2 separate regions of the Homo sapiens genome follow, and region 1 is linked to region 2. Evidence: fine-mapped QTL for protein levels in blood plasma. Region 2 holds a variant in brackets. A gene starts in the other region. All regions are shown on their reverse strands.

Region 1 (16,445 bases), not on the chromosome of region 2:
TGACATTTTTTACAGAACTAGAAAAAAAAAACTATAAAATGTGTACAGAATTTGTGATACTGTGATATAATAAGAAACATATATTTTGTCTCTGCCCCAGTTTATGGCACAGAGATCCTAAAACCCTTGTAGTTTACAGAACAATGGGAGTGGTAAGAGAATTTTTGGTCCTAACATTTGGTTTTTGATCCCAATTTCTTGCCCAGAGCTTCTAGTTCCTTAGACTGTCCTGGGCAATAGCAGCATCTTTTTTTCTAATGGTAACTTTTGGTGGGTTCCTGGATAAGGGCCAGTTATGAGAAAGACCAAGCCATGATGAGAAGCTTGGAACTTTTAGCCCCACCTCCCATCCTGCAGGAAGGGGAGAAGGGCTACAGACAGAGTTAACATTCGATTATGCCTACATGATGAACACCCCATAAAAATTTCTGGACGACAGGTTTAGGAGAGCTTCTGGGTTGGTGAACACATGGAGATGCTAGGAGGATGGTGCACCCAGAGAGGACATGGACACTCTGGTCCCCTTATCCTGCACCTTACCTTATATATCTCTTTCATCTGGCTATTCGTCTGTATCCTTTGTATTAATAATATCCTTTATAATAAACCAGTAAACATAAATGAGTGTTTCCTTGTGTTCTGAGAGTTAGTCTAACAATGATCAAACCCAAGAAAGGGGAACCTCCAATTTATAGCCAGTGAGAACCACAGGTGTCAGCCTAGGGCTTGCACATGGCATCTGATGTGGGAGGAAAACTTGTGGGAAGGACCCCCTAATTAGACTGTAATTCTAGGTAGTCTTAGTATTGCTTCAAGATCCTGAGGAGTCCTGGAGGTCTTGGTATAAAGTTGAGATTTCACTCTAATTGTAGTGAAAGCTACTGGAGGATTTTCAGCAGGAGGGGTCACATTATCTAACTTATTTTCATTTTGCAAAGATCTCTCTGGCCTCTGTGTCAAGAATAGATTGTATGGTGGCAAGAACTGAAGCAGAGGGAGGGCAATTTAAGAGGTTTTTGTAGAGGCCAAGGAGAGACAAATGTGGCATGAGTGTTAGAGAGCAGTGAGAAGCACTTGGATATAGAATAGAATCTGGAGATCATGAAAACAGGAATGACTAATACAATAATGTAATAGGTGAGGGAAAGAGATACTTAAGGATACTTCTGGTTTGGGGCCTAAGGAATTAGGTGGATGATGAGATGGAGAAGACTTAGACAGAAACAGGTTTAAGGCCGGACACGGTGGCTCATGCCTGTAATCCCGACACGTTGGGAGGCCAAGGCAGGCTGATCGCCTAAAATCAGGAGTTCAAGATCAGCCTGGTCTCTACTAAAAAAATACAGACCAGGCATGGTGGCTTATGCCTGTAATCCCAGCACTTTGGGAGGCCCAGGCGGGTGGATTGTCTGAGGTCAGAAGTTCGAGACCAGCCTGACCAACATGGTGAAACCCCGTCTCTACTAAAAACACAAAAATTAGCCGGGTGTGGTGGCGCAGGCCTGTAATCCCTGCTACTCAGAAGGCTGAGGCAGGAGAATCACTTCAACCCAGGAGGCAGAGACTGCTGTGAGCCAAGATTGCACCACTGCACTCCAGCCTGGGCAACAGAGCAAGACCCCATCTCAAAAAAATAAATCCCATCCCCCAAAAAATACAAAAATTAGCCGGGACCAGGCGCAGTGGCTCACGCCTGTAATTCCAGCACTTTAGGAGGCCAAGGTGGGTGGATCATTTGAGGTCAGGAGTTCAAGACCAGCCTGACCAACATGGTGAAACCCCGTCTCTACTAAAAACAGAAAAAAATAGCCAGGCATGGTGATGCATGGCTGTAGTCCCAGCTACTTGGGAGGCCGAGGCACGAAAATCGCTTGAACCTGGGAGGTTGCAATGAGCTGAGATCGTGCTGCACTCCAGCCTCAGTGACACAGCAAGACTCTGTCTCAGAAAAAGAAAGAAAGAAAGAAAGAAAGAAAGAAAGAAAGAAAGAAAGAAAGAAAGAAAGAAAGAAAGAAAGGAATGAAGGAAGGAAGGAAGGAAGGAAGGAAGGAAGGAAGGAAGGAAGGAAGGAAAAGAAACAGGTTTTAGGCCTAGCGTGGTGGCTCATGCATGTAATTCCAGCACTTTGGAAGGCCAAGGCAGGAGAACTGCTTGAGCCCAGGGGTTGGGACTGGCCTGGGCAGCACAGCAAGACACTGTCTCTACAAAAAATTTAAAAATTAGCTAGGTTCAGTCTTGCTCTGTTGCCCAGACTGGAGTGCAGTGGCACAAACATGGCTCACTGCAGCCTTGACCTCCTGGGCTCAAGCTATTCTCCTGCCTCAGCCTCCTGAGTAGCTGGGCTATACTACTGGTGAGTGCCATCACATCTGGCTGGCCATCCTGATTTAAAATGCAACCCCCTAGCTTCTCCATTTTTGCATCTTTGCACCCTCTACCCCGCATCCCCCAGCCTTATTTTTCTTTCACAGCAATTACCACCATCTGACATGCTGAATATTTTACTGAATCCATAAGGGCAGGGACTTTTGTCTTTGTTGTTAATTCACTTATCTCCTCAGTTCCTAGAGTAAGTGCATGCTAAATGCTCAGAGAATATTGGTTTCACTAAATAATCTATTAATTCCTTGGATTTTCTAACCATCTGTAGCAAAAAAAAAATAAAGATTAGAACTGAGACCAATGACTCAGGATCATAGGAAAGCATGTGCCTAAGATCCTAGGAACCAACTCACACACCCACATTTTTTGCCTTTTCCAAAACTGGGAGAATAAATCAGTCAATTTTTGCCATTTTTGTATGTTATGGACCGACAGAAATGTGTCCTCATTCCTCTCGTCCCCATTCACATGTTAAGGCTCCAGTACCTCAGAATATGACTGCATTTGGAGACAGTGCCTTTAAAGAGGTAATTAAGTTAAAATGAGGCTGTTAGGATGGGCCCTAATCCAATCTTGTTGGTGTCCTTATAAGAAGAGGAAATTTGGACACACAAAGAAACGCCAGGGATGTGCACACACAGAGGAAAGGCCATGTGAGGACACAGTGAGAAAGCAGCCAGCTGCGAGTGTCTTAGTCCACTTTGTGCTGCTATAACAGATTATTGGTGTCTGGGTACTTAATAAAGAACAGAAATTTATTTCTCACAGTTCCGGAGGCTGGTAAGTTCCATGTGAAGGTGCTGGTATCTGACAAGGGCGTTCTTGCTGTCTCATCCCATGGTGGAAGAGCAGAAGGGCAAGAGGGGGCAAAAGCAGGAGACATAAGGGGGCTAAACTTGTCTTTTTATGAGAAACTCACTCCCTCAATAATGACATTAATTTATTCATGAGAGAAGAGCCTTCATGGCTTAATCACCTCTTAAAAGTCCCACCTCTTAATATCATCACAATGGCAATTAAATTTCAACATGAGTTTGCAAGGACACAAAATTCAAAACACAGCAGTAAGCCAAGGAGAGAGGCCTCAGGAGAACCCAATTATGCAGACACCTTGATCTTGGACTTCTAGCCTCCAGAACTGTGAAAAAATAGGTTTTTGTTGTTTGAGCCATCCAGTCTGTGGTATTTTGTTATGGCACCTGAACTAATTAAGACACTGTAGCCCGGAATCAGTGGCTCAGGCCTGTAATCCCAGCACTTTGGGAAGCTGAGGCAGGAAGATTGCTTGAGACCAGGAGTTCAAAACCAGCATGGACAACATGGCAAAACCCCATCACTACAAAAAACTTAAAAATTAGCCAGACATGGTGGTGCACGCCTGTAGTCCCAGCTACTTGGGAGGCTGAAGCGGGAAAATCACTTGAACCTCAGAGTTTGAGGCTGCAGTGAGCCATGATTCCACCGTTGCACTCCAGCCTGGCTGACAGAGCAAGACTCTGTGTTTAAAAAAACATACACTTAGATGCCCAGCAGCTTGACCAAATGGAAATCTATCTCTTCTTTTTCATGGAAATCATCACAGTGAATCAGAGGTTGTTGTCACCAACACCCTCACAATGGTACCTAGAGGAATCAGTGCTTCCCACAGGTGATGCATTTTTGGCTGGGCAGGATGGATTCTCTCAGGCCGGGAAGGCAGTCATATGGCAGTGGGGATGGCAACAAGCAACATCTTGCTGTAGATGTGTATTCCAGTGGCTTGCCCACAGTCCCTTTGTCAGTGGGGCAGCAGGAAAGGACCACAGGGTTTCTCAGAGAGAAGGAAGGAAGATCCTCCTTCATAAAGTCAAATCAAATTAGCCAGGCATGGTGGTGCATATCTGTAATCTCAGCTATTTAGGAGGCTGAGGCAAAAGAATCGCTTGAACCCAGGAGGCAGAGGTTGCAGTGAGCTGAGATCGTACTACTGCACTCCAGCCTAGATGACAGAATGAGACTGTCTCAAAGTAAAAAAAAAAACTAGAAAGTCAAATCAAAAGATACACCAACGGTGATGGTTTCACAGCAATGTGCATATACTTAATACAATTGAGCTAAACACTCAAAAATGATTAAAATGTGAAATTTTAGGCCAGGTGCAGTGGCTCATATCTGTAATCCCAGCACTTTGGGAGGCCAAGGTGGGAGAATCACTTGAGCCCAGGAGTTCCAGACCAGCCTGGGCAATATAGCAAGACTCCATCTCTACAAAAAAATTAATAATTAGGCCAGCTGCGGTGGCTCACGCCTGTAATCCCAACACTTTGGGAGGCCAAGGTGGGCGGATCACCTGAGGTCAGGAGTTGGAGGCCAGCCTGGTCAACATGGCAAAACCCTGTCTCTACTAAAAATACAAAAATTAGCTGGGTGTGGTGGTGGGCACCTATAATCCCAGCTACTCGGGAGGCTGAGGCAGGAGAATCACTTGAACCCAGGAGGCGGTCGTTGCAGTGAGCCAAGATCATGCCATTGCACTCCAGCCTGGGCAACAAGAGTGAAACTCAAAAAAAATTATTTAATTAATAATTAGACAAGTGTGGTGGCATGTGCCTGTAGTCCCAGCTACTTGGAAGGCTGAGCTGGGAGGATGGCTTGAGCCAGGGAGGTGGAGGTTGCAGTGAGTGGAGATCATGCCACTCACTCCAGCCTGCACAACAGAGCAAAACCCTGTCTCAAAAATAAATGATAAAATAAGATAAAATGTGAAATGTTTTAAAAAGACAAATTGAGTTATTGTTAAGAAAAGATTGAAAGCTAAATAATAATACAAAATGTTACATCCATAAAAACCATATAAAGAGTGGCATAAACCGGGCAAGGTGGCACACGCCTGTAATCCCAGCACTTTGGGAGGCCGGGGTGGGCAGATCACAAGATCAGGACATTGAGACCATCCTGGTCAACATGATGAAACCCTGTCTCTACTAAAATACAAAAAAAAAAAAAATTAGCCGGGTGTGGTGGCGCACACCTGTAGTCCCAGCTACTCAGGAGGCTGAGGCATGGGAATCGTTTGAACTTGGGAGGCAGAGGTTGCAGTGAGCCGAAATCGCGCCACTGCACTCCAGCCTGGCAACAGAGCAAAACTCTGTCACACACACACACACACACACACACACACACACACACACAGTGGCATAATTAGCACATGGTACAAAAGAGCCAAAGGAGGAGAGGGAAGTGGGGGCCAAGTAGAGTAGGAGCCTTGCTGGAAGAGGGGAATGCAAAAGGATCTTGCAGCATGGAGAGATTTTAGACATACGTTTGGAGGGAATTCAGTGCAACCCACCAGGAGAAGGGCCATGGTGTGTGACTGGCCACACTCCTAAGTCTCCTCCTCACATGTGGCAATTATCCCAATTTCCCGAAAGTCACTTTATATTAGCATTTGGCAGAGCATGTTTCTCAAGAGAGTTAACATACACTCCAGACTAAAACACAAACAAACAAACAACAAATGAAATTGAAAATGTGGTTAAACAGGTGCCTTTATTGCAGAACTTCTCAGAACCCAAAGTACATCTGTAAATCTCTCCCAGATGATTAGGTCATAGATCCTATTTTCCCAAAAGAATCTCAAAGAACTGGTATTTTGGGAAGCACCACTTTAAACCTCCCAGCTATTGCTAGTGGGTGGAAAAGGGCAGCCAACCCATGGTAAGCAGCACGGTGGAAAGTACCGAACCAAAACAGCTGTCAGGCCTGACACTGTGCCTTCAGATCCCAGGACACTTGCTAATGAGCAGCTGGGGCAGGGGACAGTGACACAGCCAGTGAATAGTATTAGGGTATGGCTGACTCCAAAAAAAAATTAAGAGTATTATTGTCTCTATGTGACCCTATGCTAAAAAACTTCACCTCACAACACCCTTATCAAGTAGACTATAAAATCACTTTCACTTCAGTGCTAAAAAGGCTGGAGTACTTTGCTTAAGGTCACACAGCTAGTGACAGAACCAGGCTTTCATCCAGTGAGGGGGATGATTCCAAGAGCACTCAAGAGTCACAGCTTAGAGCAGAAATCAACTCCAGGAAGCAGCTGGGACTGCTCTACCATCTCAAGAAGAAGAACTAGTAAGTGTCAAGGCTGAGGTGAAAGCTCAGAAGCAGATGGTTTTATTAAAAATGGGCAGAACCAAAAACTGGGCTCAGGGTAGAGAAAGATGACGCAGGGAACAGAAGCACTTGGAGGTCAAGCACAACACAGTTTAGAGACTCACAAGCTCTGTGAGTGGTCGAGAACATTCTCATGGGGCAGCTGCCAGCTATTGCTTTTCCTGCTGGCAGCGTCCGCCACAGCAGCTGGAACACACTGATGTTTCGTGTGTTCCAGCCACAACAGTGTACGGTTCTCGTGAAAACTTACCCTCAAAATAGTTGATGCTACAATTATTTGTTTTGCGGTTTTACTTACCACAGTAGGTGTATGAAATACTTGCATCGGATGAGTTGCAGACCCAATACTGCTTCTGAGCTTCAGTAAATATGGAAGAAAACAGGGTGGAAAAAAACAGAAATGGTAACATGATTCAATATCTCCAAAGCTTTACAAATGCAAAGAGGATCAGTAACTAATCATCAGACTCTTCCTTTTCAGTAAGCAGAAAAGATTTAACTTAGTCATCAGTCACATGATTTCTGAGTTCCTATCCAACTGTTTCCTCTTTTTTTGTGTGTGTGTGCTCAACATTTGAGCACTTCCTGTAAAGGAAGAGAGAAAAATGATTTAGAATGTACTCTTCAAACACTTACTGTAAATGAGAGTGATCAAAGACTTAAAAATAAAACAAGACACTTTGGCCAGGCACGGTGGCTCATGCCTGTAATCTCAGTATTTTGGGAGGCTGAGGCAGGTGGATCACTTGAGGTCAGGAGTTCAAGACCAGCCTGGCTGACATGATGAAACACATCTCTACTAAAAATACAAAAATTAGCCAGGTGTGGTAGTGCATGCCTGTAATCCCAGCTATTCAGGAGGCTGAGGCAGGAGCTTCACTTTATCTGGGAGGCAGAGGTTGCAGTGAGCCAAGATGGCACCACTGCTCTCCAGCCTGGGCAACAGAGCAAGACTCCATTTCAAAAAAATTTTTTAAATGAAAAATAAAATAAAATAAACAAGACAATTCCCAGTCAACTGTAACAAAACCAGTCCCTAGGTCCCCCTGAAAGTCTCAACAGACAGGCACTCCTTTTCCCTCTGCATTATTCTTCTCTCCTACAGCTCTGTATAACAGCAGTCCCCAACATTTTTGGCCTCAGGGATCAGTTTCATGGAAGACAATTTTTCCACGGACTGAGGGGATGGGGAGGGATGGTTTCAGGGTGAAACTGTTCCACCTCAGAACATCAGGCATTAGATTCTTATAGGGAGCACGCAACCTAGATCCCTCGCTTGTATACTTCATAACAAGGTTCCTGCTCCCATGGGAATCTAATGCTGCTGCTGGTCTGACAGGAGCTGGAGCTCAGGTGGTAATGCTCGCTCACCTGCTGTTAACCTCCAGCTGTGCAGCCCACTTCCTAACAAGCCACAACCAGATTCCTAACAGGCCATGGACTGGTACTGGTCCACGGCCCCCAGAGGATGGGGCCTCCTGCTTTATAAAACAAATTCTCAGCTGGGCACGGTGGCTCATGCCTGTCATCCCAGCATTTTGGGATACCAAGGTGGGTGGATCACTTGAGGTCAGGAGTTCAAGACCAGCCTGGCCAACATGGTGAAATTCCGTCTCTACTAAAAATATAAAAATTAGCCAGGCATGGTGGCACACACCTGTAATCCCAGCTACTCGGGAGGCTGAGGCAGGAGAATCGCTTGAACCCAGGAGGCAGAGGTTGCAGTGAGCCAAGATTGGGCCACTACACTCCAGCCTGGGCAACAGAGTGAGACTCGGTCTCAAAAACAAACAAACAGGCCAGGCGCAGTGGCTCACCTCTGTAAATCCCAGCACTTTGGGAGGTCAAGGTGGGCGGATCACCTGAGGTCAGGAGTTTGAAACCAGCTTGACCGACATAGTGAAACCCTGTCTCTACTAAAAATACAAAAATTAGCTAGGCATGGTGGCAAGTGCCTGTAGTCCCAGCTACTCAGGAGGCTGAGGCAAGAGAATTGCTTGAACCGAGGAGGTGGAGTTTGCAGTGAGCCAAGATTATGTCACTGCACTCCAGCCTGGGAGACAGAGCGAGACTCCATCTCAAAAAACAACAATAACAACAACAAATCAAATTATCATGGCCCAGAGAGCTGCACCTATAGATCTGAAGTAAACAGTCTCATGGAAACTATTTCTTTTCAGCAGCAGGTTTAGTTACAGGACAGAACAGGGCCAGATAAGACCCCAAACAGGGGACACTAGCTGTAATTCTGTGCTGTGGGCAGGGACTCCACCAGTCTTAATAATGTATTCACCTACAACAAGCTAGAGCTCAAGAGAACATTTTGAGTCCTAATAATGAAATGTCATCCTTTTGTTATGACATGTATTTCATTTCAAAACTCTCACTCCATTTTAGAAAGACAGCTATTCCTTTAGATATCTTGCTACTTGAAATCCTTTACAGGATATAGCTTAGGGTTAGCAGCCAAAAATGGCATGGAGTTTTGGCCTAAAAATCTGCACACTTAAGAAGAAAATAATCATACGTTGGTAAAAATATTTTACAACAGAAGTGTGATTTTTTCCATTTTTTTAGAGATAAAGTCTCACTGTGTTGCCCATGCTGGGGTGCAATGGCTATTCTTAGGTGTGATTATAACACACTGCAGCCTCAAATTCCTGGGCTCAGCTGGGACCACAGGTTTGAGCCGTGGCTCTTGGCCCTGCCATTTTCAAAAAGGCAAAAGTCCAAGGGAGGAGGGGGAAATGGGGAGTTGTTCAATGGGCATAGAGTCTCAAGCTGACAAGATGAAAGAGTTCTAGAGATCTGTTGCACAACAAGGTGAATATAGTTAACACCACTGAACTCTATGCTTAAAACTGGGTAAGATGGTAAATTCTTTAAAAAACACAATTTTAAAATAAATTTAAAAGATGGAAAAAAAAAAGACAACCACCCATGAACACCCTTAGTGGTCTCAAAATACCATTTCCCACTATAAGCAACCAGGACTCCTTGGAGTCTGGGGTAGAAAATGTACAAAATGAGCCTAAAACACTTTGTTATATTAGATAACCAATTTGAAGACGGTTCCACTGAGCAAAGATAGGTGTTTCTAGTTTCCTATAATGGCTGTAACAAATTGCCAAAAGATTTTGTGGCTTAAAACAACATAGGCTGGGCACAGTGGCTCATGCCTGTAATCCCAGCACTTTGGGAGGCCAAAGCGGGCAGATCACCTGAGGTCAGGAGTTCAAGACCAACCTGGCCAACATGGTGAAACCCCATCTCTACTAAAAATACAAGAAATGAGCCAAGCATGGTGGTGGGCATCTATAATCCCAGCTACTCGGGAGGCTGACGCAGGAGAATTGCTTGAACCCAGGAGGCAGAGGTTGTAGTGAACCGAGAGATTGCACCACCACACTCCAGTCTGGAAGACACAGCAGGACTCCATCTCAAAAAACAAACAAAAAACTGTAAATATATTCTCTTACAGTTCTGGCGGTCTGAAGTCTGAAATCAGTTTCACTGTACTAAAGTCAAGGTGTCAACAGAGGTGGTTCCTTCTGGAGACTAAGGGGAAGAATCTGTCTCCCTGCTTTTTTCAGCTTTTAGAGCTACAATCCTTGTATTTCTCCATCTTCAAAATGCATCGCTTCAGTCTCTGCAATCTCTGCTTCCATCATCCCATCACCTTCTTCTTTTTTTTTTTTTGAGGTGGAGTCTCCCTGTGTCGCCAAGCTTGGAGTGCAGTGATGCGATCTCAGCTCACTGCAATCTCTGCCTCCCGGGTTCAAGTGATTCTCCTGCCTCAGCCTCCTGAGTAGCTGGGACTACAGGCACGCACCACCACGCCCAGCTACTTTTTGTATTTTTAGTATAGACGGGGTTTCACCTTATTGGTTAGGCTGGTCTTGAACTCCTGACCATGTGATCCACCTGCCTCCTCCTCCCAAAGTGCTGGGATTACATGCCTGAGCCACTGCACCCAGCCCATTTCATCACCTTCTGCTCTGATTTCATGCCTCCTTCTTATAGGGACCCCAGTGATTACAATGGACCCAGCTGGGTAATTCAGCACAATCCGAGTTAAAATCCTCAATTTAATCACATCTGCAAAATTCCTTTTGCCATGTAAGGTAATATTCACAGCTTCCAGTGATTAGAAGGTGAACATTTTTTGCCATTATTTAGCCTATCTCCATAACTATGTGAACATTAATAAGATAGTAACTGCAATAAGTTGAAATACTTTAATATATTTAAATCCATAAGCTCATAACATTATATGTATTTATCGTTTTGTGAGACAGGATCTACCTCTTTCACCCAGGCTGGAGGGCAGTGGCATGATCACAGCTCACTGCAACCTTAAACTCCTAAGCTCAAGCAATCCTCCCTCCTGAGCCTCCAAGTAGCTGGGACTACAGGCATATACCCCTATACCCAGCTAATTTTTTTAGTTTTTTCTTAGAGACAGGGTTTCACTGTGTTGCCAGGGCCAGTCGCGAACTTCTGGCCTTAAGCAATCCTCCCCTCAGCCTCCCAAAGGGGTGGGATTACAGGCGTGAACCACCGCGCCCCGCCTCATAACGTATTTTTTAAGTCTACTTATCAATAGATGATGCTAGGAAACCAAATCTATTTTTAAAACTGGCAAATAAAAGGACAGAATCAAGCATTTATACTGACTTTTCTATACAAACTGAACTGCTCGGTTACCAAATAGCAGAGACGGGCAAATTTCTCTTGCCTTCTTGTGCTTTTAGCTCTATTTTTAGAAGTATTTCAGTTAATAAGTGAAAAGGGAATAATAGAATATAACCATTTTTCAACATCGAATGAATTGGTGGACTTAGGCATTGAGCATCAATGGTTGCTACCATCACAAAGAGACAAAACAATATTACGTACCTCTTAATGGGAGAACACTATGGTGACTGGCCTCCAAATAGCTCCCAGTGAGCCTTACCTCCTGGTGTACATGTCCTTGTGAATCCCCTCCAACATCAAATAAGGCTGACTGTGTAACCAATAAAGTATTGTGCAATGACAGTGTGCAAATATCATGTAGGTCACACAACACATTGTATAACCTTGCTCTCTTGGATCACTTACTCTGGGAGAAGCAAGCAGTGCTAAAGAGAGATCCATATGGTGAGAAGCAGAGACCTCCTGCCAAAGAGCTTGTACCACACTGTCAGTCATGTAAGTGAGCCATCTTGGAAGTGGGGGTTCCTCATGCCACAGTCCAGCCTTCAGATGACAGCAGCACCAACTACCTCCTGAGAGAGCTAAAGCCAAAACCACTCAGCTAGGCCACTCCTCATTTCCAGACCTACAGACACTGTGCAGTGTTAGAGATGTTTATTGTGGCTTTAAGCCTGTAAGTTTCAGGGGTAATTCATTATGCAGCAAGATAACAAATATGATCATCTATAAAAGTAGTTTTGTCCAAAATAATCAAACCTCACTCTGATGAAGTTTTAAGATCTACTTACCTATTTATAGGAAGTATAGAAGACAGAGAAACATGTTAAAATACAGCTCAGGGATACAAGTAGAAAATCTAGACCATGAGAAGATCTAAGTGACAAACAATGATTTCTTCAACAGATAATTTGCAAGGGAAAAAAAAATGAAAATGGAAAGGCCTGGCCGGATGCAGTGGCTCACATCTGTAATCCCAATACTTTAGGAGGCCAAGACGAGTGGATCACTTGAACCCAGGAGTTCAAGATCAGCCTGGGCAACATGGTAAAACCCTGTCTCTACAAAAAAATACAAAAATTAGCCAGGCATGGTGGCACGCACCTGTAGTCCCAACTCCCCTGGAGGCTTCAGGTGGGAGGATTGCTTGAGTCTGGGGGGTGGACTCAACATCTAAATGTCTTCTAAATGTCTTTTAGAAGAGCCTTAAAAACCATTTAAACAATTGGTGTGTGTAAGATATGAAACTTATTTGGAGATATATATATATAATTTTTTTAACCAACTCTTCATTCTGTTCTGATTATTTGAATCTTAAATCAAACCAAATGTGGGAAAAAATTATGAAGCAATTGGAAATTTAAACAGACTGATAGATTGATGACATTAGGGCTGTGAGGTTGTTTTGTTTTTGTAGATCTGATAATGGTATTGTAGCTACATTTTAAAATAAGTCCTCATCTTGTAGAGTTACAAAAGTAAATATTTAAGAAAGAAATATTATTATGACTGGAATTTGCTTTCCCCAAAAAGTAGAGGGCAAATGATTAGGTCTAGATGAAACAATAGTGACTATAAATTGGTCATTGTTGAATCTGGATGATAGAGTCATGCAGGTTCACTGTACTCTTTTACTTTTGTGTTTGAAATTCTCAATAAAAATAAAAGCAAGTTCAAGGTGTTCTAAAAGAATCAGAATAAAATTTTTACAAATACATTCAAGCTAAGACTGCCATTCATATCTAATGGCCATCTTGTTACTTTTGCTTCCAAAAGCCTTTCAGTACAGTGAAATCTACATTAGAGAAAAGGATTGCAATATTTTATTGTTAACAGGGTTATTACCTGATGTAACCCAGATGTCAGCTAGGATCACCTTGCCTTTTCACATGCAAATAGGTGACTTTTGTGATGCAAATAAGTGATTCACCTTTGCTAGACAGTGAGAGATTCATTACCTTCCCAGTCTTCCTGAGATTACTCTGCCTGGGGTAGGATAGCAAAGTGGCATGAGGGAGGTGCCTATGTTTCTCCTCCTAACCTTGGCCTGAGTTGGTTCTGCTGATTATTTCAGTGATGAATCATCCTGTTATCCTATGCATGCTGATCCTTTCTCTGTCCTAGATTCTCACTCCATATCATGCCCTTGAGATGTCACCTTTCCCACTTAGTGAAAGCATATTTTTCCCCTAGACTACCAAGTTGCCTTCTGAAGAATTATTCTGATATCAACCAATAAAAACAAGTTTTTCACTCCACTACACACTGATAAAATGCCTTGAAATTTCTTTTTCATTGCATCCTTGGATGTTGCACAGATCATTTTACTTTTCAGAGGTGCTAGTTCTCATGCCTACAAAAAAAAAATCAACTCTTCTGTACTGGATTCTTTTGTTTCAAAGCTTGCATCATACAAAGCACAGCGACAATCTTTTTCAGGAAGCATTCCCACAAAATGCTTGAAAGGACCAGTTATGGTTACACCAACATCTCCAACCAAGATCTCTTTGCCTTCTTCTACAATGATGCACTTTTCGTCTGCACCGAGACAAAAAATGACAGCCTTCTTTCTTTTCTTGATTTCTTCTGGTGTGGAGCATTTACGAACTTTCATGTCATAAAAAATGCGACATACTTCATCAGCTACTTGCACTCCTGAGGCCATCTTCGCCTCTGGGGTTGCAGGGATGCGGGGGAGGGAGCCGGTGGGCAGTGAGTCTGCAGGGCATCCTCTTCACGGCTGTGGGACCGAGAGCACAGTCATAAAATGATCACATGGATATAGAACATGTAAATGTTAGATATGAGTTCTAAATTTCTCTTCAAAGAGTCAATATGTATGTTCAATTCTTTGCCTTCTACTTTTAAACTTAACTTCCTCGTAAAGCAACCTTTTCTGATTACCTGCTCCACCCTGACTCATTCCAATTACCTGCTCATTCTCCACAACCATTTTTCCCGCCAAACCACTCACCCTATCAGTCTCTTTAAATTAGCCAGTCGGAATTAGTTTAGCCTGTGCGGTCTAACCCTAGCCAATAGGAGAACAACAGAGCAGCAGGGGCCACATGTGTCAGGAATAAGACCCCCTTTTCCTCCCTTGTCCAAGTGTGCGCTCACCATTGCTCCATCTGTGAGGGCGCCCCCTTCTATAGAAGTAAACTGCCTTGCTGAGAAGAAAAAAATAAAATGTTATATTTGAGTGCTATTTCTTTTGCAGCACCAAAACTTTATTTATAACATAAAGAAATATATTGCACTTAAAACAAGTTATGAAGAGATGTAATATTGGAAGAGATCTTTAAAATGTAAACAATGCTATTTTTTCTAGGGGGAACTAGGAGTGATTTTTTCCTTTTTTGTTTTTGAGATGGGGTTTTGCTCTGTCACCCTGGATGGAGTGCAGTGATGTGATCCCAGCTCACTGCAGTCTTGATCTCCCAGGTTCAAGCGAGTCTCCCACCTCAGCCCCCCAAGTAGCTGGGATTACAGGCAAGAGCCACCACACCCAGCCTCTTTCTTCCTTCTACTTTCTAATGTATCCATAATAAACATTTGATCATAGAATAACTTTCTATAGAAAGATATCTCTTATCTTAGGGGTGTCCAATCTTTTGGCTTCCCTGGGCCACGTTGGAAGAATTGTCTTGGGCCACACATAAAATATACTAATGATAGTGATGAGCTTAAAAAAAAAATCTCAAAAATAAAATTTAAGTTTACGAATTTGTGTTGGGCCACATTCAAAGCCGTCCTGGGCTGCAGGCTGGACAAGCTTCCCTTATCTAGTAGGTTGCTATGAAAAAAATAGAAACACATCTCTCATTCATTGCTAGGATACATCTAGGGGACAAAGGACAGAGAAGCAAGCAGGCAAAAACCCACCTTGAGCAGAAGATGGCACAGAGGAATGGCGGTGGGAATTCTCAGTCTGGTGAGCTGGACAATCCAAGCAGAGGGCAGGCTCTACGTCTCAGAAAGACAGCTTTTCTGTCTTATCTCCTATGAATAAGTTTCGAGCAGCCTGGGAGTTGAATGATCTCTTTGAACAGATGTTCCTGCTGCTTCCCCATCAACCTCCCTCATACACATGTACGCCATAAAGTTTAAATTTACTATCATGGTGGCCATAGACAATGTTAGGTAGCTCCATAAAGACAGACGGGGTGTTTCATTCTTAACTGTGATCTTAGTAACTAGCACAGTACTGGGCACTTAGTAAATATCTACTGATCTAAATAGTGTGGTTTGAGGCCTCTTGTTCCTGGCTAAAAATCCTTGGCAAGAGTCAATCTCCACTTTACAATAGAGGTAAAAATCTTACAATGGATATTCTTGACAAAGCTAGCATAGAGACAGCAATTTTACACAAGGTATTTTTCACCTGTTTAATAACAGTGGTTTTCCTACACCCATAGGGTGCCACCAAGGGAGGAGTGCACAGTTGCAGAAACAAATTAAGATACTGAAGACAACACTACTTACCATTTCCCGTATAGCTAACCACCAGTTCAACTGTACATGTATGTTCTTATGGGCAATCATGCCAGGGGTTAGGCAAAAACCTGTGTTCTGAACCAAAGAAGACTTAAAACTGCTCCCATAATTTGTGAATTTCTTGAAATTTTGCGGTTTTTTGAAAATTTTTTAACAACTGGTAATCAATTTATGAAAACAGTTGACTTAAGCATTTGCAATGGTGACTTCCATCTCAACTCCTGGCTCAATACTGATGGAAGTAATCTGCTTAACTATCTGAGGACTGCGCAAGTCAATGAGTCGCTTGTGGATTCTCATCTGGAAACGATCCCATGCCTTAGAACCTTCACCGTAAGTTTTTCTTGTAGTGATTCTCAAAGTCTTGGTAGGCATTCAAACTGGTCCTTTCACTGATTCTTTTCCTTTGCTCCTCAGATCAAGTCAGCACACACCTTATCCAGGGATTTTACGTTGCAACTCGTTAGAGTGATATGAATTCGGTGAATTGCCACCTCTGACTCCACGGGTGTTTTTCTGGTATGTTTAAAAGCCATGGCTGCTGCAAGGCTTCCTAGCCAGCTTCCTGACAGACTTGGTCCTCAGGCAACAGCAAAGAGCAGTGAGTCAGGAGCAGGAGCAGGTGGACCACAGCTCCGCACCACCTATGACTGTGTCTTCCTCAAAGAGAAAATGTCTTTTAATGTCGGAAAATATTTATACACTTAGAAAAATCC
Region 2 (16,445 bases):
AAGAGACTGTTTCTAGTTTGTCCCCTCCTATATTCTGTAATTTGGTGCAGTGCTTATATAAATTGGATTTATGAAAAGAAAATAAAGAAGGGAAGGAAGGTAGGAGAAAAAGAAGGAAGAAATCAGGGGGAAATGTAGTCTATCTGTGGACTCTTAACTGTACGAATGATCATAATCCAAGAGTGTTTGTTAATGAACCAGTGTCAACCTGAAGACTATACTGGTTCCTGCCTTCCTCAACATTTTCATCAGTAGTTTGCATGAGAATAATGGCTGGACGCAAATCAATTTGACAGATGCTGTAACTGTTAACAGAAATAATTAGTACATTAGACTCTACAATCAGGAGCCAAAATATCTTAACTGGTTGGTAGGCAGAATAATGGCCCTCTCAAAATTGTCCATGTCCTAATCCCTGGAATCTAAGGATATGTTACCCTTCATGGTAAAAGGGACTTTGCAAGTATGATTATGTCAAGCATCTTGAGAAGGGAAAATGATCCTGGATTATCTGGGTGGGCCCAATGTAATCACAAGAATCCTTTGATACTGCTGTGGCTGGTCAATGGAAAAAAAAAAAAGAAAAAGAAAGAAAGAATCTTTTGAATAGTTACAGAAGGAGATGTGAGGGTAGAAGCAGAGTAGGAGAGAGGTTTGAAGATATTGTGCTACTGACTTTAAAGATGGAGGAAAGGGTCTTGAGCCAATGGATGCTAGCAACCTCTAGAAACTAAAGAAGACAAGGAAATTGGTTGTCTCTTAGAGCCTCCAGAGGAACGCAGCCCTGCCTAGGCCTAGATTTTAGCCCAGTGAAATCCATTTTTGACTTCTGATATGCAGGGCTACAAGATAATACATTTGTGTTGTGTGTTGTAATTTTTTTACAGCGGCTATAGGAAACTAATACTCTGGTTGAGATGATAAGGTGCATCTAGCAAAACTAAGTATTTTAAAATGTAGGTTTAGTACAAAATCCTATATTAAGGTCCAGGAAAATAACCAAATACAAATTGCCAGGACATAGAAGACTATTTCAGTTTGTAAAGGGCCTAAGAATTTTGATTGACTATAAGCTCAGTGGAAAACAGACAGACACAAAAATACTTGCAGTCTTGGAATGAAAAAATGCACCATGTCATCATTTAGGAAGGGCCCCATGGGTACCACGCCATCTCTGATACATGGCGCTAAGTTGTGGCTTCAATCCTTTAAACAGGATATTGACAAATAGAAGGGGCAGCGAGATGGGGAGGAATCTGAAATCCATGTTTCAAACAGAAGAAATGGGGCATGAAAATTTCATCAAAAGAAGAAAAGGTCTAAGAATACTTGCCATTTTATTAAAAATATATAACTTATGCTTTGTGCTCCCTAGGGTAGAACTCAAACCCAGAAGTACCGAGAGGTCTATTTTAGTTCCACATGAAGAAGAAATCTTTAACTGCTGAGGTGGCCCTGAGATGGGATTATTTCTTTGGGGGCAGGAATTCTGGGGTCCCTTCCCCTAAATGTATCTGAACATAACTTGGAGGTGTATTTTAAGGTCCCTCTGGCCCTCAGAGAATGTGTCCCTTGAATGGGAATGGGAAGTGTGTTAGGAATGGGGTTGTGGAAAGGAGGGGAATTACTTTACTTTCTCATCCAACCATCTCACCTCCACTCAAGCCACAATTACAAGAAGAAACCTGGACAGTTAGAATTCTGGCTTCATCTTGGAAAGCCCCAAATTTTGCTGATACAGGAAGAGGGGCTTGAGTTCTTGTCAGGCAATTCACGCCCACTCTCACCTCAAGTCTCTCCACCCCATCACCAAAGGAAAAATACAAACCAAAATAAAAACATGTTATTACATCAGTAGGGCTTCTCACAATCAGTCAAGTCTTAAAATTGAGGAAATATTGTATTTTCTGTTTTGTGCCAGTTCTCAAAAAAAAAAAAAATAGAGTGCCAAAATTAGCTGTGGTGTTCTATTCCTCACAGAGCCTCACTCCTGCTGATCATGGAGAATAAGGAATCCCCCTCCCCAACTCCTCCCTTCCTGGGGCACTCTGCACCCAATCCCCCAGGAACCCCAGCTTTGTGGGGGAAGCATGGGGGAACTCCTTTCCCAAAGCGAGACATGGCTCTTGACTTTAGGGAGGGCTCAGGACTCTGTCTCTTGCTGGGTCCCAGCCTTAACATCTGCATGGGGAGAGGTCAGATGAGGGACACAGATTAATGAGAGAGTAGACAGCCTATGCACAGTAGACAGCGCAAGAGAGTAAACAGCTCAAGAACCTCTTTCAGGTTCCAGGGAACAGGGGACCCTTGGGTACAAAGGATCTCAGGTTGGGGGGTGCTAAGAATGCATCCTTCCTGGAACAAACTTGAAGCCACAGATTAGTAGTTTCAGTCCTGCACATGGCACCCCCAACTATTGCCAACTTTAAGGGAATTTCCATCTCTCCTTTGCCCCTCAGTTCACCCTCCGCCCCTGCCCAATCCCCAGGATGGTGGGAAGGGAACTGTGGAAATTCCCTTTTTAGGAACATGGGGTAACAGAGAGCAGGATAAAGGGATACTGAGAACAGAAAAAGATCCTTCGACCCCCACCCACCCACTTTCATCCTCAGCCAGGGCACTCTCCGAAAGGAAGAGGGACTCACCAGACTCATCTGCAGGTGCTGAATTTTCCCAAGGCCTCTAGCCCACCCTCCTCCAGTCTCCCAGCCAGCCCATCCCACTGGGGAGTCAGCAGGCCCAGCCAACAGCTGGATTGTGCAATCAGAAGCCCAGATGTGGCTGGGACTCTGGCTTGCGGCAGCTGCCTCTGTCATCACCCAGGGCCTATGGCCTTCATTTCACCCTTGAGCTGTACTCTAGCAACATTCCTGTCCCCATCCCAGACAGGTCCCACCCAGCCACCATCCTCCTCCAGCAGCTCCAGGAAACACTTGGCGGCTGAGAATCAACAGCCTAGCTCGGCCACAATATGTCATGCGACCAGTGTGGGAGGCCTTACCCTACCTAGGCCTTAATAGGTATGAGCTAAAGCTTGAGCCCAAGTTCTCCAGTGAATTTTCTCCTCATTCCTGAGGTCTTTGAGTTTAGTGATGCATTTATTGCTCCCCACAGGAACTGGAAAAGATATAAAATTGCTTTTATTGCCCTTGGGTATTCTAAACAGGGCAAGGTCACATCCCGTTGTGCAGCTACCATGACCACTGTTTTCATAAAACCTTAGGTGTGGTCAATGTCATGCAATGCCATTGATTGTTTGGCCTCAGAGTTGGCAGCTGGTCAGACTTACAGTAGGCCTACTCACTCCTCCAGATAGGAGAGCCTGGCTCAGCAGATGCACTGTAATTATTTGCTAAACAGAAAAATAAAATGAAGATTCACAGAGATGGAGAGAATTGTCCAATGCCACACAGCAAATCAGCAGCAGAGATGGGATCAAAGCCCAGGTGTTAAGCCTTGCAATCAGATTCTTTTTCTCCATACCATACTCTCTGACTTCATAATGATAATGGTGGTAATAATGGTGATAGTACTGGTGGCTGATGATAATGGTAGTGGTCATGATGGTGATGGTGGTGGTGATGATGATGATGATGATGGAAATAGTGATGATAATATTGGTGGTGATGGTGGTGGAAATGGCAATGGTAATGGCGATGATGGTGGTAATGGTGGTGGTGATGATGGTGATGATCCTGCTGGTGGTGGTAGTGTTGATGGCAATAATAGTGGTCATGGTAGTGGTGATGATGTGGTTAGGTGATAGTGGTGATTATGGGAGGAATGGCGATGATACGGTGATGATGATGGTAATGATGATGGTTAAGGTGGTTATAGTATGATGATGGTGGAGATGGCGGTAATGATGGTGACACAGCCTTGATGTGATAATGAAGATAAATTGCCTTCTCTCAGGGAATTCTCTTTAGGAATACATATTTTTGGATTTAATTCTTCAACCTTGGAATGATTTGGAGTTTGCGTCCTCATTCAAATCTTCATTCAGCAGCAGAAACCAAGTGTTGTGTGGCTGCCATGAGAATGCCCTGTTGGAACTCCTGCTGTGATGAGCAGATGGACAGGTGGCTCCTGCTGCTGTCCTTATAGATCTGCCATATCACTTGTGCCAAGGCCCTGCTTCCCAAGGGCTACTCTGGCCAGTGACCAACCACAGCGAGGTGACTGGCTCAGGCACTCCCCGTCCGACTCCACATCATGGATGAAATTTTCTTAGAACTGCACTGCAGTCTCAGACTCTTCCTCCCCAGCCCTTCTTTCTTCCTTCTCTCCTCCATAGGAGTCCAACATGCAGTGCCATCTGAAGGCTGTGCTCCCCTTCTCTAGCTCCTTCTCTTTTATTCCTCACAGCCATTTCCCCCAACAAATCTCTTCCATGTCTGCTCATGTCTTGTTCTATGTTTTTCAGCAGAATCATATTAATAAGCCTGGGTCACCAAACTGAGTAATACCACTCTGGCAAAAATAAAAATAATGGCTAAAATATTTTAGCAATGAGAAGAATTTTCTTCTGTGACTTAGAAGCTGTATCTGAGGACAGTTCCAGGCAGGAATGTTTGTAAACTTTGAGAAGGAAATTTGAGTTTGCCTTTGGCTAATTAAATCCTTGCTAGGGATCTGACATACAGTGGAGAGAAGGGAGGAAGGTGGGGGATCCACAGGACAGAGATCCCCTAAGGGGAATAAGCTAGATATGTTTCAGGGATGGTGAGCGACTCAGAATGACAGGAGTGGAAGAGAGGAGGAGGGGAAGAGAAGCTAAAGCTGGGCAGAAGCGGGGAACCAGGTAAAGACCTTGCAGCCAGAGCAAAGACTTGAGATTTGATGAGACAAGAAAAGAGGTAACAGAAGACTTGTGAAGGGGTGGCAGTGGCATTGCAGAGGGGCAGGGTAAGAAGGGGTTTCAGGGAAGGTACCACTTGGGGGCTGTGGGGGTCATCCTGCCAAGCAACAAGGAGAGCTGGGATTGAAATGGTAGATGTGGCAGAAATGGAAAAGTGGTGCTGAGAAAGGATGGACCCATTTTGCTGCCTAACTGGATGTGGGAGGTAAAGAAGAGGAGCCATGTCCCAGGGGCTCAGCCTGGGAGGAGACTGGAGGCATCCCTGACATAAACAAGATGGCCGAAAGGAGTTACATTCTGGAGGGAAGACTGTGAATTGTTTTGGGTCATGATTCTCCAGTAGTCATGTCCACTGAGGACTTGAAAACATGAACCTAGAGCACAGAAAAGAAGCTTTAGACTGGGTTGTAGCGAGGGAGCAAATGAACTCTCCTCTAGGAGCCGTTGTGTGCACTATAGATTCCTAAATGGAGAAAGCAGAGTCTTAGAAAATAACCTGCCCCTGCTTTGCTGGCAGAGAGGTAGGAAATGGCGATGGAGAGGCAGGGAGCTGGAAGGTAACAAGACAGACAGGAAGGGCAGAATTCCCGGGAAACAAGGTTGAGGCAGACATTTGCAATCCTGAGGGCTGGATCCCACAACCCGCGTCCTTCCACAGCCTTCCAGCCTGAGGGGTGCCCATATTGGCCCTGAAGGAAATGGGGACAGGCATCTGGGGCTTCCCATGGACCTCAAAGAAACTCTCCTCTAGGGTCATGCCAGAACAGAAGGGTGACATTCTGGCAGAGCTCGGGACTGTGGAGCCTCCCATGGGGCAGCCTCCTACAGCCTGCTCCCGTGGTGCAGTGGACACGTCGCTCTCCTGGGGTCAGCGCTGGGGCGGCAGCAGCCTCTGTGTGAGGTAGTGGTGCTGGCATCTGCTTCCCTGGAACAGGCACTAGGAAAACAGATGACCTCAGGCTGAAAGCTCTTAGAATCATTGCTCAGAAGAGGGCAGAAAAGACAGGCTAAAAATACACGCAGACCCAGATTCCCTACCTCTCCAGAAAAATTCCAAGAGAGTGTCCTACAAATGCATCTGATGCAGGCCCCTGAAATCTGCTGTTTCCTCACCAGCCTATCCATCACTCTCTCCTCGGGGCTTACACACCTGCCTTCTACCCAGGCCTGGCTCCTCTCCATCTCCAGAGCAGGCTGGGCTCCTTCCTACCTCCCAAACTTTGTCTGCATTCTCCCCTCCCCGAAGCACTCTCTCTTCTCCTCGTGGTTTATCCTCAGCTTGTTCAGGACTCATATTCATCTCACAGATCACCTCTGACCTCTTCTGGGGAGGCTCCCAGGCTTCTAAGCTCCTTTTGACTAAGAACCTGAATCACACAATGTGCCACTGGATGGTCTATCTTTCCCTCAATTTCTGAAGGTTAGATTGATCTTCTTATAAAAGAATCTTCTTAATGGCAGTCGGGGGAGGAGCGTGAGGAATCTCTGCCTGGGCTTTGCCCTGTGCCTCCTCCCTTTGGTTGAACCTCTGGGGGCCCTGGTGAGATCTCACATCAGAAGCTGGATTTCGATTGCTGCCGTTGTAACTGACTGGGATTTTTATTCTTTAGTGGCAGGAATGAGGACACGTGGAGTCAAGGGTGTGTCTCATGGCTGACCATTCCTATACAACTGTACCTTTGCTCTTCCCCCAGGGCCCTCTCCTTCTCACTGCCTCAGTCCAGCTGTCTCACTCTGAATGTGGGAGCCTCTGAACTACAAAAGCCCTGGGCGTAAGCAAACAATCTGACCCCTAGCAGGTCTCTAAAAGTTGCAGGTCGATAGAAGGAAGGAAGGGAGAGATGGAGGGAGGGTGAGAGAAGAAAATTAGTTTTTAAATCTAAAACTTCGGGCAGAAAAATGGAAATGAGGAATAAATATGTAGACTTTCTATAGCACAATTTAGTGTGTAATTATAACATACAAACAGTACAGTGGCTCACAAAGACATCAGTCTATCTCAGTTTTAACAAAGTAACTACAGATTATGGTCAGAATAGTAAACATTAAATCTTTCAATATTCTGGAGAAGAGCCAGGATGCTTACCTCTACAGCTCAGCTTGACTCACAAAGGGAGGGAAGTCCTCCTAGCTTCTCTCCAACCTTGGGCATGGCAGGGGGAATGATCATGAACCTCCTCCTCATCTTCCTCCTATCTGGTCCTTGAGAAACGCGTTGCTCTAGTCAGAGCAGAATGCTCCCTTGACCAGGCTTTCTGAGAGTGGGCTCACTCAGATACCACCTTCCTTTCCCTCTCACTTCCTGGGACTCAGCCTTCCCAGGCAGGCACGACCACCTTCCTGCCCACTCTCGCTTACTGTGCTGTGTCACACCTCCCAGACACAAAAGCAGCCATGTCTTTCTCTGTTTGCCTGTGGGTAGGTGGATGGGACATTTCCAGCCTATAGCTAGGTGGAGACGTGGATGTTAGGGACTTGGGGACAGGAAACATCCCTTGGGCTTCCAGGAAAGGGTCTCTGGGGCCAGCCCAGCTTATCAGAGAAGTCCTGCTTCAGGGAGATACTGGGCACTCATCAGAGATTGAGCTACTACTGTGTTTCCCTTTTGGATTTTATCCTTATGCTGTGATTCCCTTGGCAGGAAACCTGGAAGGAAGGGAGGTGAGCAGCCAGATTCAGGCCCCAAACCTCCCTGGAGTCCCAACAAGAAGCCAGGGCAGCAGTAATTCAGTGAAGATGCTGAATATGCCGTTCTCAAGGTCACACTCCCCCCATATCCTGTACATTCTGTGAAATTCTGCCCACAAGGCAGTGGATTAAGGTGGAAAGGAAAGGCTAAGAGATAGGAGACCTACAATTCCATCTCTGCTCCTAAAGAAATCCTTCCTCCTCTGCGGCCTCAGTTTCCTCAATGTAGAATGAGACTCCTCACTTGAAGCAACTTTATGGCCAGAATTTAGTTTGATACTTACAACCTTGTGTGCAGGAGAGAAGCCGACATGATCCCAGGCGTTGGGATTTAAGGGTGGAGTGGTGGAGTTAGGAGAGGAAACTCACATGTGTGAACCAACTGGCGAAAAATGCAAGAGAGAGTTTGATTGAATGCCTGAGTTAGTGGATCAGACCAGCAGTGCCTGGCTTGTGGGCTGGAGCTCTTGCAAGAGATCTGTACATCCATATGCCCTACAAGCATCGACCGAAGGCTGAATAAATAATACAACTTGCACGTATATGTGGGACTATTTTTCAAATCATCAATGCTGCTGTCACAAATAAAATGCAGATTCATTTGAAAGTGGTCCTGAATGCAGACTCCCTTTGGGTTGCTATGCATTTTCTCAAGCAGCAGACCTTATAAAGACAATTGTTGTTTACAGGGACATAAAACAATATCTGGCCTTTTATTTAAAATACTCGAGGGAAAAAAGGCAGGGGTGGATGAAACTGGAAGGAGAGAATGTTAATAATTATTGAAGCTGGATGATGAGTATTTGGGGGATTATTATACTCTTGTCTCAACTTTTGTATGTTTGACATTTTCCATAATAAAATGTTTCTTTAAAAGTATAAATGCTCTTTCTTATGTGGTCATTCATGAAATCTTTTGACATTAAAAAAGGGATTATTTGTGGAAAGCTGCTCACAACACACTGTTGAGTGAAAAAACACAGTTATAAAGCCATATGTAAGTATGAGTCTAATTCGCTTTCTTTAAAACAGCAAGGGTGTGTGCGTGTGTGTGTGCAGGAAAAAACCTTCATTTTAGACCTTCACTAAGATGTGAATGGTGGTTAACCCTAAGTAGAGGAAATGGGGCAGGTTATATTTTCTTTATTTTGTTTATCTGTATTTCCAATGAACATACTTTCCTTTTGTGATCAGCCTGAAATATTTGTTAAGATTTATGGTAGGTATTCTTAATTCAATAAGGCTGGGAGTTGCTCCTTCAGGGAGATGGGCGTGGGTGCCAGACCTTGGGAAGCTGTCATGGTGGACAGCCTCACCCCGGATCTCAAGAATGGGTAGGATTTAGAAATCCCCAGGCGGGTGAGAAGGCGTGCTGGGCAACACATAAACCAGGACATCTTGTCTTGAGAGAGTGACTTTCCCAGGGCAGGGGTGAGCCCAAGGGCCAGGGGCTGCAGAGGGTGTAGAGCAGGGATGGAGGGGCTGGGTGGGGCAAGGTCTTGAAGGGCCAAAGGGTTCTGGGAAAAGAGGAGCCTGAATTTCTGGCTAAAAATTGCCCTGGGTATGTGTGTGAGTGTGCACGCGCATATTAGCTGTGGCATTCAGAGCAAGGAATAATTGGAAAAACATGGCCAATGCTGAGCCACACGCATTTGGGGACATGTGGCTCCAGTTCTAGGATTGTTTGTCATTCCTTATTTCAGGGAAGCAGGAAGACAAAAGATGAAGCATTGAACTAAACGAAGATTCAGATGACACCAAGGAGTCAACTTGAGACCAAGACCATCAGCTATCAAAAGACATCTTTTGGGGCCTCCACCCATCCCATGACCAATCACACTGTGAGGTTGTCCATATGTCCTGCCAGCTGCCGCCAGGACCAGTGCCTTAGCAACAGGAGCTTTTGCACGCTGGGAGAGG[G/A]AACTCTGGCACCTTCCCAAGGGTTTGCCGGAAGGGAGCTGGAGGGGCAGCAGGATGGAGAGGAAGAGGGCGCATTACAGGCAAACTGGAGACAATCCGGGAAACTCCCAGAAACCCCAGCAAAGACTGCAGAGAGAGCCTGGGGATCCACAGAGGCCTACATGACCTCAAGGCCCAGAGTCACTGGCTTCCAGAAGGCAGGGAAGTTGATGACATGCATCTCTGTACCTCTGTGTCCTTACCGGTAACTAAAGCAGAGGCCTGGGGGCCTGGTGGGGAAAGTGGCCCAGATCAGACCTCTAGGGGATCCAGAGAAGGCAGAAGACCTTAGAGGATTCAGAGCCTAGGCTGGGAAAGTAGTCTCTTGCTGGGAAGACCTGCAAAGGGATGGCCATTTGCAACCCTCTTGAGCAAGATGGTGGAAGGTGGACTTGTAAACTGCTAGCATGGGGCTTCCCTGAGTTCTCTTCACTCATTGCTACCTAGAAGACCTTGACTTCACCTAGGGTGCAGAGTCTTGAGGTTTTAAGACTGAATGCGACCTTACCCAACCTTGCTCTGCCCTTTGCCAGAACACTACATGTGGTACTTGACTCTGGAAAGACAACAAACGTGAGATTCCCTTCCCAGTCCTGCATCCCTAACTCCTTTCGCCTGGCTTATCTCCTCCTAGGAGGCCTGGGCGGCAGCCTTCCCCAGGAATGTAAGAGCTTCCTCTTTGCTCTTCCAGCCAAGTCCCTTTCCCCCTTCACTTAGCTAAAATAAGATTGGACTTTCTCAAAATGTTTACTAGGAAACTAAGAAATAAACAAAACAAAACCAAAGGCAAGTGATGGAGGTTGATGAACTATTACAGGATTGTAGAATCTAACAGCAATCTTCGGTCAAAGAACCCAACTCAAATCTCTCGGGATTTTTTTTAGAAGTGCTTCTTATTTCTTCTTTCTTATTTTATTATACTAGTCCTCATTCTCATTATGTTTTGCTAATCCTTTTGAGCACATGCTATGTGCCAAGCATTTTGCAACATGATCATTTATCGTTTTATCAGGCAAGGCATTGTGTACATATATCATTGTATCATGCTCAGACGGGTTAAATAATTCATCCACAGCTGTTCCCCTGGAAAGTGGCAGGGCTAGATGTTGAAACCAGGCTCTCTGACCTTAAAACTTATGTATTGATCACCCTCCACCCTGCCTCTCTTTGACTGTGTGTCCACACCCCTCCTTGTAACTCAAGGCATCTAATGTGAAGTGCCCTGCCAGGGACACATGTGAACCTTTGGACCCATTCCTGCTCCAGGTGAAATTCATGCAGAAGCTCCTGACACTGGTTATGAATAGTTTGCAACTTCAAGAAAACAAATAAATGCGATTGTCTTACATTTCCTTTACCTTTTCTTCTTATGGACTTCAGGTGCAGAGTTACAGTGTCTGCTCCATGATTCATCATCATTAGTTCACATGTGGATTTCCTTTATTTCTTATATATGTATTTGTTTATTTTTAAGAAAATAAACACCCACAGACCACCACCCATCTCAAGAAACAGAACATTACAGACAATTTACAACTACCTATTTTCCTCCCCAATCCTGTTGCCTGGCCCCATCTCCTTATCATTCTCTTGCTTTTTTAAAAAAAAACTCATTTAAACTTATATATGTATATATGTATTTTAAAACATAATTCTTTAGTTTTATTTGTTTTCAAACTTGTGGGATTAGAGCTGAGGGCCAGAACCTTCTGAAGTTTCTTTTTTTCATTCTAAATAATGTTTCATCCAAAATGTATGGATTCATCCATGTAAGTAGTACATGGATGTATACTTTTTTTCTTTTCCTTGTTCTTATAACTACAAATAGACATATAAGTTTAACAAGATTTTTCACCACCTTTGAATCTAAAATATCTTGCAGTAGCTCTAGAATTTAGCTCTTTTCTTAAAAGATACTTCAAAAAGTATCTTCAGTGTGCGTCTTTTGCAGCTGGTCATCTGAGCCCATGTATAACTGGGAATATTTTTATTATGTCATTCAAATGACAATTTGGGTATATACAAAAGTCTTAATTCAAAGGTTTTCCTTCAATATTTAAAAAATATTAATCCATTGTCTTTTTTACTCTGCTGCTGCTATTCAGAAGTCTGATGTCAATACAGCTCTTGCACCTTTGTAGTTGTTCAGTCCTTTCTCTAAAGAAGCTTTTAAAATGTTCTCTTCTTTCATATTCTTATATTTTACTGTAGTGTATTCAGGAGTGAGATTTTCCTTCTTTCTCCTGTTTGCACTTTATTGCACTTTATTGATCCATTTAATCTCATATTATTTATTTTTTAATTCTGGCAAACATTTCTCTATTATTTTATCAAATACTTTCTATATATTTTTATCTTCTTAATTCTTATGCTTTTATCTTCTTCTGGGACTCTTATTATCTGGATGTTAACACTTGCATACTCTATCTTCTTTAACTTTTTTTGTGTATGTTCTATTCCTTTATCCTTTCCTATCACCTTCTGGAAAGCTTCCTCAATCTGATCTTCCAATTCATTAATTTGTTCTCCGGCTGTATTCATACTATTATTTATTTGTGTATCATGTTCTTTATTTCAACTATTATATTTCTCTTATGTAATAATTCTACCGGGTACTTTTAAAATTTTTAAAATTGTCATTTCATAGTATTACATATATGGTGCTCCATTTCTGTAAATGTGTTTAGCTTATTTTAAATTTTCAATCCAGTTTTCTAATATTCCTACTTCAGAAGTAATGCGGTTTTACTCTTGAGGTGGTGGCATTCCCTCAGGGTTATTTGGGCACGTATTCTCCAAGGGTCTCAGTTACTGTCTTAAAATACATAGTAGAGAAGGGAAGGCCACACTGTAGTCATGGGGCCAAGACATTGAGACACTTGTTTACCATCATACTTCAAAGCAACTCCTCAGGCCAAAGGTTGGTGGAAAGAACAATCTCTCTGGATAGAAACCACTAGCCTAGGGTGAGAGAGGAAGAAGATAGAATATGCAGCTGAGCTTGTCCCAACCTGTCTTCCCCAACTACCTCCTCCAGAGGAGTAGGTGCATTGCCCAGACAATACCCCTACAGATACCTGCTCAAACTGCACGGCCACTGTCTCCAAAATCTGCCGTAAGAGGTACACAATGCTTGCCCTAATGTAATGTAGGGAAAAGGCAAGATCAGATCTTAAACCACTTTTCTCTCATTTAACCTCTCATTGTCACTATCAATCACCTTTCATTCAGGTTTTTACCAAAATACCAGTTCAAAGTACCTTTCAGTTTCCCTGGATATTTCTATTTTTTTTTCTTTGCTGGCGTGTGTGTGTTTGTGTGTGTGTGTGTGTGTGTGTGCACGCGTGTGTGTGGTGCTGGTGATGGTTGTGGTTTTGTTTCCTGGATTCTGCATTCTCCTTTATAGGTTCCCCTTTATAGAGGCTGATTCTTGGAGAGGGAGCCATTGTGCTGTGACTATTTGCACCTAGGTGGGAACCAGATACCCTCATCTTAACCATTTCTATGTCTATGTTCCTACAATCCTTTCATCTGGACATTCCCAGGAAACAGATTATCTCCGGTTCCTTTTTGATTTTTAAATGACATTCTACAACCCATCTAAAAAACTGAAACATACTTAATACAGAATGCTCTAAAAGTACACAAACACACAAAGCAAAAGCCATCTACAATTTTACTACTGTGAGATTTCTCCTATGAATTCAATGTGAATAGATCCTGTCAGAACCTTCAAGAGGGTTGTAATTGTGTACATGCCAGCCAGGTGTCTCAGATTCCTATTTCCTCACACCCACTACTAATACTGTATGTATTATTGATTTATTAAAAGTTTGCCAAGCTGGTGGTGGAAAAATGTGTAATTTCTTATTGCTATAACTTGTAGTCCCAGGTCTAAAGAATAGTTGGGCACTGTTCCATATGTGTACTGGATGTTTGCCCTTCTGTGAAATGCTCATTCTTACCCTTTGCCCAGTTTGCTTTGAGTTGTTTGATTTTTTTTCTTATTGATTTGTAGGGCTTCTTTATATATTACAAATATTGACTCTTGCTATATGTGTTTCATATATTTTCTTCTCTATGGAAAAATGATTTTTATTTAATTGTGTTAATGTTGTCTTTGAAAATAAAGATGTTTACACTTTTCATGTGGTTGAATCTTTCAATATTTTTCCTTTAAGACATCTGAGTTTCATGTGTTGCCTAGCAAGGTCTTTCCCACCCCATAATTAGAAAAAAAATGTCAAAGGATAAAATAAATATTTCTCCAGAGCAAATATGCAAATGGCCAATACTTATATGAAAAGATGCTCAACATCATTATCCATCAGGGAAATGTAAATCAAAACAGCAAGGAAATACCTCTACACACCCATGAAGATGACTATAATCAAAAGGTCAGATAACAGCATCTTCAATGAATGGTGCTGGGAAAACTGGATATCCTTATGCAGAAGAATGAAACTAGAACCTTATCTCTCACCACTTGCAAAAATCAACTCAAAACAGATTAAAGACTTAAATGTGAGACCTGTAACTGAAGCTACTAGAAGAAAACAGAAGAAAAGTACCGCATGACATTCGTCTGGGCAAGGACTTTTTAAACTAAGATCTCTAAAGCACAGGCAACAAAAGCAAAAATAGACAAATGGAATTGCATCAAACTAAAAAGCTGCATAGCAAAAGAAACTATCAACAGAGTGAAAAGACAATCTACATAATGGGAAAAATATTTGCAAACTATGCATCTCACAAGGAGTTAATATCCAGAATATGTAAGAAACTCAAAGAACGCAATAGCAAAAAAAAAAAAAAACAAATAATATGATTTTAAAATGGGCAAGTGATTTGAATAGACATTTCTCAAAAGAAGATATACAAATGCCTAGAAGGTATATGGAAAAATACTCAACATTACTAATCACCAAAGAAATGTGAATCAAAACCACCATGAGATACCATCTTATCCCAGTTAGAATGGCTTTTATCAAAAAGACAGAATGATAGATGTTGGCAAGGATGTGGTTAAAGGGAAAACCTTGTACACTGTCTGTGGAAATGTAAGTTAGTACAGTCATTATGGATAACAGTCCTCAAAAAATTAAAAATGGAACTATGATATGATCCAGCAATCCCACTACTGGGTATATATTCAAGGGAAATGAAATAAGTATGCTGAAGAGATATCTGCACTCCTGTATTCATTGCAGCACTATTCACAATAGCCAAGATATGGAATCAACCTAAGTGTCCATCAATGGATGAATGGATAAAGAAAACACGATGTCCATATACAATGGGATACTATTCAGCCATAAAAAGAATGAAATCCAGTCATTTGGGACCACATGGATGGACCTGAACGACATCATGTTCAGGGAAATAGGCTAAGCACAGAAGGCCAAATACTGCATGATCTCCCTCATATGTGAAATCTTAAAAAGCTGATCTTACAGAAGTAGAGAGTAGAATAGTGGTTACCAGAGGCTGAGGAGAGAGTAGTGGAGAGAAGATAATGGGGAGAGGTTGGCCAACAGGTTTAAAGTTGTGATTAGATAGGAGAAATAAGTTCTGGTATTCTATTGCATAGTAGGGTGACTATAGTGAATAGTAATGTACTGTATACTTCAAAATAGCTAGAAGAGAGGATTTTGAATGATCTCACCACAAAGAAATGACAAATGTTTGAGATGCTAGATATGCTAATTACCCTGATTTGATCACTACACAATGTATGTATCAAAATATCACACTGTACCACATAAATATGTACAACTCTTATGTGTTAATTAGAAACAAAATAAAACCTGTAAAAAATAAAAATAAATTTTACTTGTAAAAATAGGTTATATAATAACAAGTAGCGAAATTGGAACCTTTATACACTGCTGCAAAACAGTACAGCCATTTTGGGAAGAGTCTAGCAATTTCTTAAAAGAATAAACATAGAGTTACCATAGGACCCAGCAATTCCACTCCTACATAAATCCCCAAGAGAAATAAAACCAAATCTTCACGTGAACACACACAAATATTGTACACAAATGTTCATAACAGCAATATTCTTAATAACCAAAAAAATGGACACAACCCTCAAATTCCTTACACTAATGAATAAATAAATAAAATGTGGTGTATCCATATAATGAAACACAATTTGGCAATAAACAGGAGTACTGAGATATGCTACAACATGGATGAACCTAGAGAACATTATGATAAATGAAACAAGCCAATCACAAAAATACCACATATATGTTTTCATTTGTATGAAATGTCCAGAATAGGCAAATCTATGAGCAGGAAAGTAGACTAATGATTGCCTGGGGCTAGAGAAGTAATGTGGGGGGAAAATGATTTTTTCAGGGGAGTGATGGAAATGTTCTAAAACCAATTGTGGTGGTGGTTGTATAACAGCGAATATACTAAAAGCCATTGAATAGTACACTTTAAATGTGTGACTTGGATGGTATGTGAATTATATCTCAATAAAGCTATTTTTAAATGCTTATATTTTATTCTAATTTTATACAGTTTGCTCTATAAATCTTTAAACTATATGGAATTAATATTTTGTGTAGGATGTGAGAAAGGAATTTTATTTTTTTAAAGGATAGTTATTAGTCCCAACTCCATTTCTTTTTTGCATAAACTATTCATCTGGCACTGCCTTGAAATGAAATGTTTATTATATACTGATATGATTTGGCTATGTCTCCACCCAAATCTCATCTTGAATTGTAGTTCTCACAATCCCCATGTGTTGTGGGAGGGACCTGGTAGGAGGTAACTGAATCATGGGGGTGGTTACCTCCATGCTGTTCTCATGATAATGAGTGAATTCTCAGGAGATCTGATGGTTTTGTAAGGGGCTTTTTCCCCTTTTGCTTGACCCTTCTCCTTGCTGCCACCATGTGAAGAAGGACATGTTTGCTTC

Direction of the effects. Alleles are on the strand shown, and positions count from the first base shown. The strength of an association depends on the size of the effect and on how common the allele is.
For the plasma level of the protein whose gene starts at base 6,998 in region 1, allele G in region 2 goes with a higher level than allele A (weak association).

The links. PIP is the chance, under the fine-mapping model, that this variant and not a neighbour inherited with it causes the effect. Protein levels are from antibody-based Olink assays in UK Biobank. Linkage for the fine-mapping came from a reference panel and not from the study's own genotypes, which makes the PIPs less certain.
Region 1: LY96 starts here. The variant in region 2 is fine-mapped to the plasma level of the LY96 protein (UK Biobank, PIP above 0.99).

Annotation. Positions count from the first base shown.
Region 1 is chr8:73,981,945-73,998,389 of GRCh38, reverse strand. It overlaps LY96 (lymphocyte antigen 96), which reads right to left and starts at 6,998. Exons shown (of 5, transcript NM_015364.5): 1 at 6,836-6,998. The coding sequence starts at 6,947. It overlaps TMEM70 (transmembrane protein 70), which reads right to left. Exons shown (of 3, transcript NM_017866.6): 3 at 15,607-16,445. It also overlaps the pseudogene RPS20P21 and the pseudogene DSTNP3. RefSeq lists enhancers at 6,217-6,286, 6,657-6,756, 12,848-13,430 and a silencer at 13,150-13,350.
Region 2 is chr2:71,820,732-71,837,176 of GRCh38, reverse strand. No RefSeq gene overlaps it. Among named protein-coding and RNA genes, the nearest start is that of CYP26B1, 320 kb to the left of the region's middle. RefSeq lists an enhancer at 5,777-6,976. The variant G/A (reference allele first, on the strand shown) is at 9,470.